2 linked regions of the Homo sapiens genome follow. The protein of the gene in region 1 interacts with the protein of each later gene in a biochemical or structural test. Each region holds a gene or a part of one and is shown in the gene's direction. Other genes may lie near its edges.

Evidence for each region. Proteins that work in one complex are often made in the same cells at the same time.
Region 2: the proteins of FHL1 (region 1) and HIVEP3 form a complex in vitro, tested with the Homo sapiens proteins (one study listed by BioGRID).

What each region holds. Positions count from the first base shown.
Region 1 is NC_000023.11:136,200,043-136,207,069, forward strand, and holds part of FHL1 (four and a half LIM domains protein 1), read left to right. Parts: intron 1-4,859; exon of another isoform or gene 4,860-4,897; intron 4,898-6,364; coding exon 6,365-6,546; intron 6,547-6,973; coding exon 6,974-7,027.
Region 2 is NC_000001.11:41,579,916-41,586,942, reverse strand, and holds part of HIVEP3 (transcription factor HIVEP3), read left to right. Parts: intron 1-1,624; coding exon of another isoform or gene 1,625-1,637; 5' UTR 1,638-2,145; coding exon 2,146-7,027. Other genes in the region: uncharacterized LOC128125817, read left to right, coding at 1,625-1,637.

The sequences.
Region 1 (7,027 bases):
TACTGAGGTTTATTTAGGCACCTCTCAGCATGTTGGATGTAGTTCAAGAATTTTCTGAAAAAGGAAGCTTGTTTATTAAGTGAAAATGATGTGTCTTTTGAAGCAGGCATAGAAAGTCAGGCTACCCTTTTGGAATAAATGTCTAAAATTTTATCACCCAGCCACATTTCTAACTGTATTCTAAGCTTGTAAAACTTTAATTTAGTTAATTTTTAATTAAATTATTTAATAATGATGCTTTCTGTCTTAGAAAATCAGGGGACATTTATGTGGACCTAAGGTGTAGGTTAGACTTCAGCACCTTACACGTCATATAAGATGATTTTTAAAATCAGGAAATAGTATGTCATATTGCATTAGGTTCATAAGTCCATGAAAGCAGAGGAGAATAGGCCCAAGAAAGAAGTCCTTACAGAAAGGAAATCAGTGTGGTCCTGAAATAGGGTTGGTATGGACAAAATAGAGGCTCAGATAATTGGATCAGAAGCCACTTTCAGTGACTATCCACATACCAAAGTTTTAGAAACTTAGTTGTGGTAACATATCTCCATCTGTCAATCAACAGGCATATACTGAGTGATTCCTGTATACAAAGCCCTGGATTAGGTACTGGGGCCCCCTAGTGTATGAGCAGAACTTTCTGTCATAGAGAAACCCCACTTGTTAGCACTAGGGAATGTATCCAAGTCACTCGGCACCAAAGTATGTTAGCAGCGGGGAATCTGTGGGTCTGTAGCAACCTCATTTCTTGCCTCCTCAAGGAAGAACAAGGCAGAGGGAGAAGCCAAGGCAACTTTTAGAGCAGGAGTGAAAGTTTATTAAAAACTTTTAGAGCAGGAGGCCGGGCACGGTGGCTCATGCCTGTAATGCCAGCACTTTGGGAGGCTGAGGCGGGTGGATTACTTGAGGTCAGGAGTTGGAGACCAGCCTGGTCAACATGCTGAAACTCTGTCTCTACTAAAAATACAAAAATTAGCCAGGCTTGGTGGTGCACGCATGTAATCCCAGCTACTTGGGAGGCTGAGGCAGGAGAATTGCTTGAACCTGGGAGGCGGAAGTTACAGTGAACAGAGATTGCACCATTGCACTGCAGCCTGGGTGACAAAGTGAGACTCCGTCTCAAAAAATAAAATAAAGTTTCAGAGCAGGAATGAAAGTAAAGTACATTTAGAAGATGACCAAGCAGGCTACTTGAGAGATTCAAAAAGTGCATGGTTTGACCTTTGACCTGGGCTTTTATATGTTGGCATGATTCGGGTGTTATATTACTTCTCTCCTGATTCTTCCCTTGGGGTGGGCTGTCCGCATGCCCAGTGGCCTGCCAGCACTTGGGAAGTGCCGCATGCGTGGTGTTTACTGAAGTTGTGTGCATGCTTACTTTAAGCGATTTTTCCCTTAGCAGTAGAGCATTCCCAGAGGTAGGTCTTATACCAGTTAAACACCGCAATTTTGCCTCTTAGTGCACATGCTTGAGCCCAATTACCCACCTCCTGAGATCTCATGGGGACGTGGCTGAGCATCAGTTTCAGGTGTTTCTGTCTATTAGGGACCGTGTTTCCTTGGTGCCAGCTGCAACCAATTATTATTTTAGCGAGAGATAGTTTAACAACCATCTGACCTTCACCTGATGGCCGCCTGACATTCCTGGTTGGGTGGGGGGCCCTCTCTTGCCCTGCTCATGTCTAATACCTACTCTGGCATCCCTACTATGTACAGATGAGGGCTACACCGAGACATTAAAATTAGTCAAAGAGCTGCCCGAGGGCAAACATGCCCTCCACAAAGACAAGTGGTAAGGGAAGAAGCATGGTGATGATGTGTAGCAATTGTTTCCTTCAATGATGGCTGACACTCCCATTCCCGGATAACAGCAATAGGTCAAGGCAGACATATCTAGAAGTTCTGGAAGATTAAAGGCCTTCACATTTCATGTACTTAGAAATAGCTAAGGGGATAAAAAATTATTCCCTAAGAAATAAATGCCTAAGTACATGTAATTCTGTAAGGTTGAAGAGAGCCCAAAAGAAGAGGTAAAATGCTGGCTGGGCATGGTGGCTCATGCCTGCAATCCCATCAAGTTGGGAGGCCGAGGTGGGCAGATCACTTGAGGTCAGGAGTTCAAGACCAGCCTGCCCGACATGGCGAAACCCCGTCTCTACTAAAAATACAAAAATTAGCCAGGCGTGGTGGCATTCACCTATAGTCCTAGCTACTCAGGAGGCTAAGGTAGGAGAATTGCTTGAACCCAGGAGGTGGAGGTTGCAGTGAGCCAGGATAGCACCACTGCACTTCAGCCTGGGTGACAGAGCGAGACCCTGTCTCAACAACAACAAAGAGGTAAAATGCTATCTTCATTTTTCCCTATTCTCTCATTTCAAACAAAAGAAAGTGCAAGCTGGGATGGACGCGGTGGCTCATGCCTGTAACCCCTGTAATCTCAGGTGCGGTGGCTCACGCCTGTAAAATGCACTTTGGGAGGCCAAGGCAGGTGGATCATGAGGTCAGGAGATCGAGACCATCCTGGCCAACATGGTGAAACCCTGTCTCTACTAAAAATACAAAAATTAGCTGGGTGTGGTGTCACATGCCTGTAGTTCCAGCTACTCGGGAGGCTGAGGCAGGAGAATCACTTGAACCCAGGAGGCAGAGGTTACAGTGATCCAAGATTGCGCCACTGCACTCCAGCCTGGTGACAGAGCGAGACTCCGTCTAAAATAAAAAAGAAAGAAAGAAAGAGCAAGCTTTTCTCTCCTCATGAAGTCAAAGCTTGATAGTAGCTCAGACTCAGGGAGCCCACACTCAGGATCTTTGCATGTGTGTCTCAGCATTGTCATTTATAAGCTGGCTTTTTAGAGTTGTTTTGGTCTTGTGCACATCAGCACATCATTCATATTTTATACAAAATTGTGACGTGATCAGTATCTCCTCCAACTTCATCCTGAGCACACTGCGTGCATGAGGGTTTGAAATTGTTTTGTAACAAATAATCATAAATTTAGAAGTACGTGACGTAAGCTAATTCAGGTTGCCCAGAGTTCCACTTAATTTGATTTATTGCAAAACAAATACGAAAGTTCATGAATTTGACATAGACATTGTTAACATACTTTAAGTATTTCTAGCCTGTTTACTTATTATGCAACAAATCCAACATTCCTAGAAGTGCCTATTTTATCTAGACTAATTGTTTCCACACACATTAAAAGGACTCAAGTGAATTGTAGAAATGTATTCTAAAAGAATATGCCCTTTGAAATGATTCTCCATCTGGATACAGACTGCAGGTTTAAGTATAGAGTGGTGGGGAATCTAAGGTGTAAGGTGACCCTAGAGTTTTCAAACTCAGAGTGAAAAAATCTTGCCTAAAGCTAGGATTCAAAAATACCAAGAGATGAAACTCTTCTTATGGGTACTATTAACTTGGGGTTGATTCATTTAATTTTCCTTTTGCTTGGTTTAAGACCATGTACTATAGGAATGATACAGTGGCCAGTGACTTCATTGTCTGACATTTTCAACACCCTTTGTTACTTCTATCTTCACTGGTGAGCTGTGGATTATTTTATCATCTGGATGCTTAGAACTCTGAGCAAGTCATGTTCTAGAACTATGAGACTAAACAATGAAGAACTTTGCACTGGTAATATCAAAGTACTGAAAGTGTGTGGTTTTAAAGTGTGAAAAACATGGCAGTTAAGATCTCTCAGGTACTTTGAACCATAATGCAGTTTTCCTTCTCTTCAAAACCTCTACTTCTAAATGGCATTCATTGTGTTTTCTAGTGTTTTTTCTTTGGTATGACACTAGTTAACCTGTATTTCTTACCATAAAGCTAGGACTCAAATACTAAGAGGTTTGACTCACCTTAGGTGGAACTTTATATAGTACTTTAACTTAGAAATATTTGGAATCAATTTCTGCTTATAAAGGTATCAAAAGCAAGTGATACTAAAACGAGTAGGTTCAAAGTTGTATACTAAATAGAGACCTTGGTAAGAGAGAATGAGGGATTTTCAAATATGGTCCAGAAGATAGTCTCTGAAAGGCTAAACCAGCAATGGTTACTAGCCATGCAGGAAGCCAGTGCTGTCTAATCTTACAAATTCTGTTTTCCTGCCAAATGGCATTTAGGAGCAACTGATAATTTATTTCTTGCCACTTGCCGTTACTGGAGATTTATTTGGTTTCTCAACTCAGCCCTTAACAAGAAAGCAAGTCTTTGTTGAGGGCACAATATTATCAGTATGGCAAAGCTAAGACGAGGCTTCTGTGTGACACTGGAAAGACCAACAAGAATGGATTAAAGAGAGTGATTTTCCATATGCTGTCACTGGGACAGGTACTTTTCTCTGTAGACACACAGGCTAAAAGCAGTTTAAAAGCTTCCTTACCTAAACAGTACATAGTTCAAGGAGATAGGCCCTGTGTCCATTGCGTCTCTAGTTTTTGTTTCTAACCCATTATATAAAGAAACATCCCAGTTTGCTTTTTAGAGAAAAGTTCAAGTTAGAACCATTCTCTGGTCTTGCTAAGTCTCTTAATTGTGACACAACTGTCCTAAGCAACTGTCCTTGCACAAGAATGTCACTCATCTGCTTCATCTGCCAGCTCCTTAGAGATGAGGGGGGTCTGTGTGTCAGCAGGAGGCAGAAGGCCCTGTGGCTCATCCAGTGGCCTGATTTCCTTTGTTTGGAGGCTTGGTTCTGAGTGAGAGTTCAACAGCCTTTGCCCAGGCGGCTTCTCAAACACAGGGTGTGGTTTCCTTAGCTCACTCTCTGCTGTTTGGTTGCTCATGGCAACAAGATCCAAATAACTTGGACATGTGTTTGTATAAAAAAAACCTGGGAATGGAACCCAAAGTGAGACTTTGGGGCTTTCAGTTAGTGGAAGAGCTGCGGTGAGTACCAGGCAACTGCTCATTTATTTTCTCTCATTCTTTCTCTCTAAATTACGCTGGAAGTTTGCTAGCACAATAACCATGTTTGTGGATAGTTTTAGAAAGTAGTCTCAATTCTTGTATTTCCTGCACAAATGAAATAATTGCTATCTATTTACCCGTGCAAATTTCTTTTTCGGGGGAGAGGAACAAATTAGCATATGTTTAAAGAAGTTGAAAGCTAATAGAAACTCATATTTGGTACCTTTTGGGTGGCAGGATTCTATAGGAAATGCCTTGGCAAAGGGAGCTGCAGAGTGCCTTAGTAATGCTTGGGATTGCAGGCGTGTTGTCTAGGGCCACAGCCGGGGAGGGGACCAGGGAGGGAAGAGGGGTTGTTCATACGGAGGGAGTGGAAGGGATTCTTGGAATAATTTTTTCCAGACTCTATTTTAAGATTATAATTTTTAAGACAGCAAATATCCCAAATGGTAATACTGGTTACACTTCTATGAGCATATTGATTCTCACTTGCTTGACTCAAGGGAGGGTTTGATTTTGGTCACAAAGCCACCCGTGACTATGACAGATAATTCAAGGTTGCCAAACTTGCCTGTGCCAATTGACAAAGCCATTTATATAAGTCCTCTCTTGCTATATTGCTCTGGCCTCAAAAGGCAGTAAACTCTCTTGGACAAAACTCTTTAGGATCTATTCAGGGATTTAACACTTTTCTGCTAAATTGCAAGTAAATTTAAACATTTTAAACAAATTAACAAGGATTGCTTAGGTACCTGGTGTGGTACAGAATGAGCTGTCAGTTTCTATTCTGATGAATAGAATTTTATAGATAGGAGGAACGGGAGGCCTCCAGAGGATACTACCCTCCCTAAAAAGAGACGGAGGAAGAGCTGAAAGCGGGCAGAGAGGCTTCTTGATGACAACGTGGTGGGCTTAGAGAAGCTGCTGCCTGCAGGCGGGGCCCCTGCTTTCCTGCACCCCTTTGAGCCTCTGCCCCACACTCTTCCTTTGTATAAAACAACTGCTTCTTGCCTGCCTGCCCCATCACACCCCTCCACTCCATCGGGTCACTGCTCAATGGCACAATAGCACTGCTCAGCCATACCTCCCAGCATCCTGTCCCCTATCTGGTGACTTGGCCAACACAGGCTCTGATCCACTTGCCCCGCTCCGCATCTTTTGTGAATCAGCACAGTTGATATATCTGAGCAGGGGCTTCTACCATCTCCCCAGGGAATCACTAGCCATCGGCCATCTGGCCCCGCGGGGTGCTTTTGTTCCTGGAATCATAGTGAAGTATCTGTTGTCTTGGTGCCTGGTAGTCAGCTCGGCTGAAGGGGAAGCTGGGTCTTGGTCCTCAGACCCCATGGACTCCAAGGCAGCATTGTGCAGGTGCCTCTGGGAGCCACTGCTCAGGGTGCTGGGGCATTTCCTGTGGTCATTTGTCCTGTCTGCTTGCCCCCGCAGGTCCCTCCAGCTACAAGGTGGGCACCATGGCGGAGAAGTTTGACTGCCACTACTGCAGGGATCCCTTGCAGGGGAAGAAGTATGTGCAAAAGGATGGCCACCACTGCTGCCTGAAATGCTTTGACAAGTTCTGTGCCAACACCTGTGTGGAATGCCGCAAGCCCATCGGTGCGGACTCCAAGGTAACGGGCATCCCCATGTGCCAATGGGAAGGGCTGGGTTTTGGAGTGTCCTTTGCCCACAACCATGGCAGCAGCAGCTGGCTGTTAGGATTTCCCAGCATCACTGCAGCCACCTTGAGGCCTCAAGGAAGCCTCCTCCACTCCCCAGGCCACAGTGGCCCGAGCTGTTTAATGTGGGGCTTGACTGGATGGGCGCCAGCGCCCTTGCCAGCTCTTTTGATTGCATTCTAAATATTTCAAGAATTGTGAGATTTTTATCCTCACCTCAGCGTCCCTCCTATAAGAATAGTCACTGTGGGGCAGTCCCAGGTGTAAGGGACTGTGTCATCTCAGTGGTCAGTCCCAGGGAAATCAGCCTTATGGGAGGGCTCCTGCCACCACCCCCAGCACCCCTCATGGTGGCCCACCCTGTCTGCTTGGTTTCCAGGAGGTGCACTATAAGAACCGCTTCTGGCATGACACCTGCTTCCGCTGTGCCAAG
Region 2 (7,027 bases), on another chromosome or scaffold:
TTGCCTTATTTCCATTTTCTTTGTTCTGATTTGTTATTCTTATTTATGATTTTCTCATATTTATAGTTTGTCATTCTTCTATAAATATGGTTTTGTTATAGTTACTTTGAATTCTTTGTAGCACCAAGTAGAAAAGGCACACAAAAGGAGTGAACTTAGAGGATATGCTTTTTAGCTAAAAGATCAAATCACCTGCTCCTCCAAAGCATATCACAGTGTCCGAGGGCCCTGCCCTTTAAGAGACAATTATTTGAGTCTTAAAGACTTGTTCGTCTTCTGAGCACCTGCAAAAATGTAGTAAGTGGCATTTTCAAGTCTGTATCATCACACACCTAGTGAAACGAAGAGTGTGAGCATGAGGGGAGCCTGAGGGCAGGATGCCGGGGGTAGGGCATGCTCACAGGAGAAAAAGCAAGCACAGAGATGCTCATCACTCACCCAGGGCCTCGCCAAGGGATGCCAGGGGATGGACACCTGAGAAGGGGCTGGGGAACAAACTCTGGCCATGGGAGGCCTGGGTCCAGGTGGCAACACTGCCTGTTAGCAACACGGGACCTTCAGTAAGCCATCTTCATGATGTCCAAAGTCAGGTGGTTGGGTGAGATGGAGTCCATGGTGACTCCAGCCTTGGGATTCCGACCCTGTTCCTGGGGAGGAGGGCCCTGAGGATGCACCTGAGCCCAGGAAGCTGAGACTGCCCTGCTTGCAGCTGGCCCTAGGAGGAGGCACACACTTGGGGCTATATGCAGACCAACTTTGCTCCTCCACTTGAGGGCAATGATCCCCATATTTCCATGGCATCCCCAGGGCACTGACTGGACAAGGAAAGGCTGCAAAGCCAGAGGAACCTTCCAGAATGATCCTCCTGGCAATTGCTTGGATCAAGCAAATGGTCACAGCTGTGTCAGATTGTAAGTTCTCACAGGCTGTGGCAGTAGTTTGCAGTTTTGTCTTCAAACATGGGCTGGGGTGCGGGTTAGCAATGGGGTAAAAAGCAGTGAATGATGTCCCTTGTGGACACTTTCAGAACCCAGGGCCAGAGAGAAATACTAACCTGAGAATAATCTACCCCTTGGAAAACTCACCCCTGAATAAACCACAGGCACTTCCCTCCTGCACCAGCCATGGCCCCATCCAGAGTTCACCCAGCAGCATCTGCATCTCCAATGTCATTGGGCCCACTGCAGCTCCGAGGCACAGTCGAGGCAGGATTTGTTATCTGTTTTACCGATTAGGCAACTGAGGCTTAGAGAGCTTAGACCCACTCAGAGTGGATCACAAAACAGAGATGAGAGCCCAGGCCTCTGTCCCTAACCACCCTGCAGTTCCCAGAGCCCACTTTGCCTTCTGTTCTCAGCATCCCACATGGCCACAGTCCTCAGAAACACACTGGCATTCAGGTCACCCAACACTGACATGGGAGCGGGGGAGGAAAGAATTGCAGGGCTTGGACATGTGGAGCCGGAGCCTGTGGTTCTGCTTGAGTTTCCCTGGTTAACTTTTGAGGGGTCTCAGCCAGGTGTGGCACCGAGTCTGGGCTGCCCAGGCTGTGCATGAGTCCCAGTAACTCTGTCTTCTCTTTTGTGTGTGTGTATTTCTGTGTGTGTGTACATCTATCACACAGAAGAAGAGCGTGATTTCTCCTCCAAGGCCGTTGATCTCCAACCCAGAACTAAAGGGGAGAAGAGCCACCCCCAGCATCCAGCGTGGCATCTCTTGTGCCAGGACCAGGGATGACTGGGCCATGGACACAGATGTCTCCAACCTTCAACCGTTTGCATAGCACACGGGGGACTCGTGGGGGCCACCTGCCACTGCCAGCTGAAACAATACAATGGCAATACTGACATCCTTCATGACGTTTTCCCGACAGACATTCAGGCAGAAAGTGCTGGTGCGTTTTCTGTCTGCAAAGTAGAGGGCCATGCCTCACCAATAGAATAGCGTGGGCCCTGATGACCTGCTCCGAGTCCACTCACAGCCAGTGACACTTGCAAAAAACTCCCAAAGCCGTCTTGGGTTTGGCTCCCACAGCTCTTGACCAATGTGGCCAAAGCTGGACACCTCCTTGGGACACTGGGATTATTCATAAATGCAGCCCGCCCTGACTCTCCCTGAATAGCATCTGAAGTCTTTGTGAAGGTCATGGATCCTGAACAAAGTGTCAAGGGCACCAAGAAGGCTGAGGGAAGTCCCCGGAAGCGGCTGACCAAAGGAGAGGCCATTCAGACCAGTGTTTCTTCCAGCGTCCCATACCCAGGCAGCGGCACAGCTGCCACCCAAGAGAGCCCCGCCCAAGAGCTCTTAGCCCCGCAGCCCTTCCCGGGCCCCTCATCAGTTCTTAGGGAAGGCTCTCAGGAGAAAACGGGCCAGCAGCAGAAGCCCCCCAAAAGGCCCCCCATCGAAGCATCCGTCCACATCTCACAGCTTCCGCAGCACCCTCTGACACCAGCATTCATGTCGCCTGGCAAACCTGAGCATCTCCTGGAGGGGTCCACATGGCAACTGGTTGACCCCATGAGACCTGGACCCTCTGGCTCCTTCGTGGCCCCTGGGCTCCATCCTCAGAGCCAGCTCCTTCCTTCCCACGCTTCCATCATTCCCCCCGAGGACCTTCCTGGAGTCCCCAAAGTCTTCGTGCCTCGTCCTTCCCAGGTCTCCTTGAAGCCCACAGAAGAGGCACACAAGAAGGAGAGGAAGCCCCAGAAGCCAGGCAAGTACATCTGCCAGTACTGCAGCCGGCCCTGTGCCAAGCCCAGCGTGCTCCAGAAGCACATTCGCTCACACACAGGTGAGAGGCCCTACCCCTGCGGCCCCTGTGGCTTCTCCTTCAAGACCAAGAGTAATCTCTACAAGCACAGGAAGTCCCATGCCCACCGCATCAAAGCAGGCCTGGCCTCAGGCATGGGTGGCGAGATGTACCCACATGGGCTGGAGATGGAGCGGATCCCTGGGGAAGAGTTTGAGGAGCCCACTGAGGGAGAAAGCACAGATTCTGAAGAGGAGACTAGTGCCACCTCTGGTCACCCTGCAGAGCTCTCCCCAAGACCCAAGCAGCCCCTTCTCTCCAGCGGGCTATACAGCTCTGGGAGCCACAGTTCCAGCCACGAACGCTGTTCCCTGTCCCAGTCCAGCACAGCCCAGTCACTCGAAGACCCCCCTCCATTTGTGGAACCCTCATCTGAGCACCCCCTGAGCCATAAACCTGAAGACACCCACACGATTAAGCAGAAGCTGGCCCTCCGCTTAAGCGAGAGGAAGAAGGTGATCGATGAGCAGGCGTTTCTGAGCCCAGGCAGCAAAGGGAGTACTGAGTCTGGGTATTTCTCTCGCTCCGAGAGTGCAGAGCAGCAGGTCAGCCCCCCAAACACCAACGCCAAGTCCTACGCTGAGATCATCTTTGGCAAGTGTGGGCGAATAGGACAGCGGACCGCCATGCTGACAGCCACCTCCACCCAGCCCCTCCTGCCCCTGTCCACCGAAGACAAGCCCAGCCTGGTGCCTTTGTCTGTACCCCGGACGCAGGTGATCGAGCACATCACGAAGCTCATCACCATCAACGAGGCCGTGGTGGACACCAGCGAGATCGACAGCGTGAAGCCAAGGCGGAGCTCACTGTCCAGGCGCAGCAGCATGGAGTCCCCAAAATCCAGCCTCTACCGGGAGCCCCTGTCATCCCACAGTGAGAAAACCAAGCCTGAACAATCACTGCTGAGCCTCCAGCACCCGCCCAGTACCGCCCCCCCTGTGCCTCTCCTGAGAAGCCACTCAATGCCTTCTGCCGCCTGCACTATCAGCACCCCCCACCACCCCTTCCGAGGTAGCTACTCCTTCGATGACCATATCACCGACTCCGAAGCCCTGAGCCACAGCAGTCACGTGTTTACCTCCCACCCCCGGATGCTGAAGCGCCAGCCGGCAATCGAATTACCTTTGGGAGGGGAATACAGTTCTGAGGAGCCTGGCCCAAGCAGCAAAGACACAGCCTCCAAGCCCTCGGACGAAGTGGAACCCAAGGAAAGCGAGCTTACCAAAAAGACCAAGAAGGGTTTGAAAACAAAAGGGGTGATCTACGAATGTAACATATGTGGTGCTCGGTACAAGAAAAGGGATAACTACGAAGCCCACAAAAAATACTACTGCTCAGAGCTTCAGATCGCAAAGCCCATCTCTGCAGGCACCCACACATCTCCAGAAGCTGAAAAGAGTCAGATTGAGCATGAGCCGTGGTCCCAAATGATGCATTACAAACTGGGAACCACCCTGGAACTCACTCCACTGAGGAAGAGGAGGAAAGAGAAGAGCCTTGGGGACGAGGAAGAGCCACCTGCCTTTGAGTCCACAAAAAGTCAGTTTGGCAGCCCCGGGCCATCTGATGCTGCTCGGAACCTTCCCCTGGAGTCCACCAAGTCACCAGCAGAACCAAGTAAATCAGTGCCCTCCTTGGAGGGACCCACGGGCTTCCAGCCAAGGACTCCCAAGCCAGGGTCCGGTTCAGAATCAGGGAAGGAGAGGAGAACAACGTCCAAAGAAATTTCTGTCATCCAGCACACCAGCTCCTTTGAGAAATCTGATTCTCTCGAGCAGCCGAGTGGCTTGGAAGGGGAAGACAAACCTCTGGCCCAGTTCCCATCACCCCCACCTGCCCCACACGGACGCTCTGCTCACTCCCTGCAGCCTAAGTTGGTCCGCCAGCCCAACATTCAGGTTCCTGAGATCCTAGTAACTGAGGAGCCTGACCGGCCGGACACAGAGCCAGAGCCGCCCCCTAAGGAACCTGAGAAGACTGAGGAGTTCCAATGGCCCCAGCGCAGCCAGACACTTGCCCAGCTCCCAGCTGAGAAGCTGCCACCCAAAAAGAAGAGGTTGCGCCTGGCAGAGATGGCCCAATCATCAGGGGAGTCCAGCTTCGAGTCCTCTGTGCCTCTGTCTCGCAGCCCGAGCCAGGAAAGCAATGTCTCTTTGAGTGGGTCCAGCCGCTCAGCCTCGTTTGAGAGGGATGACCATGGGAAAGCCGAGGCCCCCAGTCCCTCATCTGACATGCGCCCCAAACCCCTGGGCACCCACATGTTGACTGTCCCCAGCCACCACCCACATGCCCGAGAGATGCGGAGGTCAGCCTCAGAGCAGAGCCCCAACGTTTCCCATTCTGCCCACATGACCGAGACACGCAGCAAATCCTTTGACTATGGCAGCTTGTCCTTGACAGGCCCTTCTGCTCCAGCCCCAGTGGCTCCACCAGCGCGGGTGGCCCCGCCAGAGAGAAGAAAATGCTTCTTGGTGAGACAGGCCTCTCTGAGCAGGCCTCCAGAATCTGAGTTGGAGGTTGCCCCCAAGGGAAGACAGGAGAGCGAAGAACCACAGCCCTCATCCAGTAAACCCTCTGCCAAAAGCTCATTGTCCCAGATTTCCTCTGCGGCCACCTCACATGGTGGACCCCCGGGAGGCAAGGGCCCAGGGCAGGACAGGCCCCCATTGGGGCCCACTGTGCCCTACACAGAAGCACTGCAAGTGTTCCACCACCCCGTTGCCCAGACACCCCTGCATGAGAAGCCATACCTGCCCCCACCAGTCTCCCTTTTCTCCTTCCAGCATCTCGTGCAGCATGAGCCAGGACAGTCTCCAGAATTCTTCTCCACCCAGGCCATGTCCAGCCTCCTGTCCTCACCATACTCCATGCCCCCACTTCCTCCCTCCTTATTTCAAGCCCCACCGCTTCCTCTCCAGCCTACTGTTCTGCACCCAGGCCAACTCCATCTCCCCCAGCTCATGCCTCACCCAGCCAACATCCCCTTCAGGCAGCCCCCTTCCTTCCTCCCCATGCCATACCCGACCTCCTCAGCACTGTCTTCTGGGTTTTTCCTGCCTCTGCAATCCCAGTTTGCACTTCAGCTCCCTGGTGATGTGGAAAGCCATCTGCCCCAGATCAAAACCAGCCTGGCCCCACTGGCAACAGGAAGTGCTGGCCTCTCCCCCAGCACAGAGTACAGCAGTGACATCCGGCTACCCCCTGTGGCTCCCCCAGCCAGCTCCTCAGCACCTACATCAGCTCCTCCACTGGCCCTGCCTGCCTGTCCAGACACCATGGTGTCCCTGGTTGTGCCTGTCCGTGTTCAGACCAATATGCCGTCCTATGGGAGCGCAATGTACACCACCCTTTCCCAGATCTTGGTCACCCAGTCCCAAGGCAGCTCAGCAACTGTGGCACTTCCCAAGTTTGAGGAACCCCCATCAAAGGGGACGACTGTATGTGGTGCAGATGTGCATGAGGTTGGGCCCGGCCCTTCTGGGTTAAGTGAAGAGCAAAGCAGAGCTTTCCCAACTCCATACCTGAGAGTGCCTGTGACATTACCTGAAAGAAAAGGCACTTCCCTGTCATCAGAGAGTATCTTGAGCCTGGAGGGGAGTTCATCAACAGCAGGGGGAAGCAAACGTGTCCTTTCACCAGCTGGCAGCCTTGAACTTACCATGGAAACCCAGCAGCAAAAAAGAGTGAAGGAGGAGGAGGCTTCCAAGGCAGATGAAAAACTTGAGCTGGTAAAACCATGCAGTGTGGTCCTTACCAGCACCGAGGATGGGAAGAGGCCAGAGAAATCCCACTTAGGCAACCAGGGCCAAGGCAGGAGGGAGCTAGAAATGCTGTCCAGCCTGTCCTCAGATCCATCTGACACAAAGGAAATTCCTCCCCTCCCTCACCCTGCATTGTCCCATGGGACAGCCCCAGGCTCAGAAGCTTTGAAGGAATATCCCCAGCCATCTGGCAAACCTCACCGAAGAGGGTTGACCCCACTGAGCGTGAAGAAAGAAGATTCCAAGGAACAACCTGATCTCCCCTCCTTGGCACCTCCGAGCTCTCTGCCTCTGTCAGAAACGTCCTCCAGACCAGCCAAGTCACAAGAAGGTACGGACTCAAAGAAGGTACTGCAGTTCCCCAGCCTCCACACAACCACTAATGTCAGTTGGTGCTATTTAAACTACATTAAGCCAAATCACATCCAGCATGCAGATAGGAGGTCCTCTGTTTACG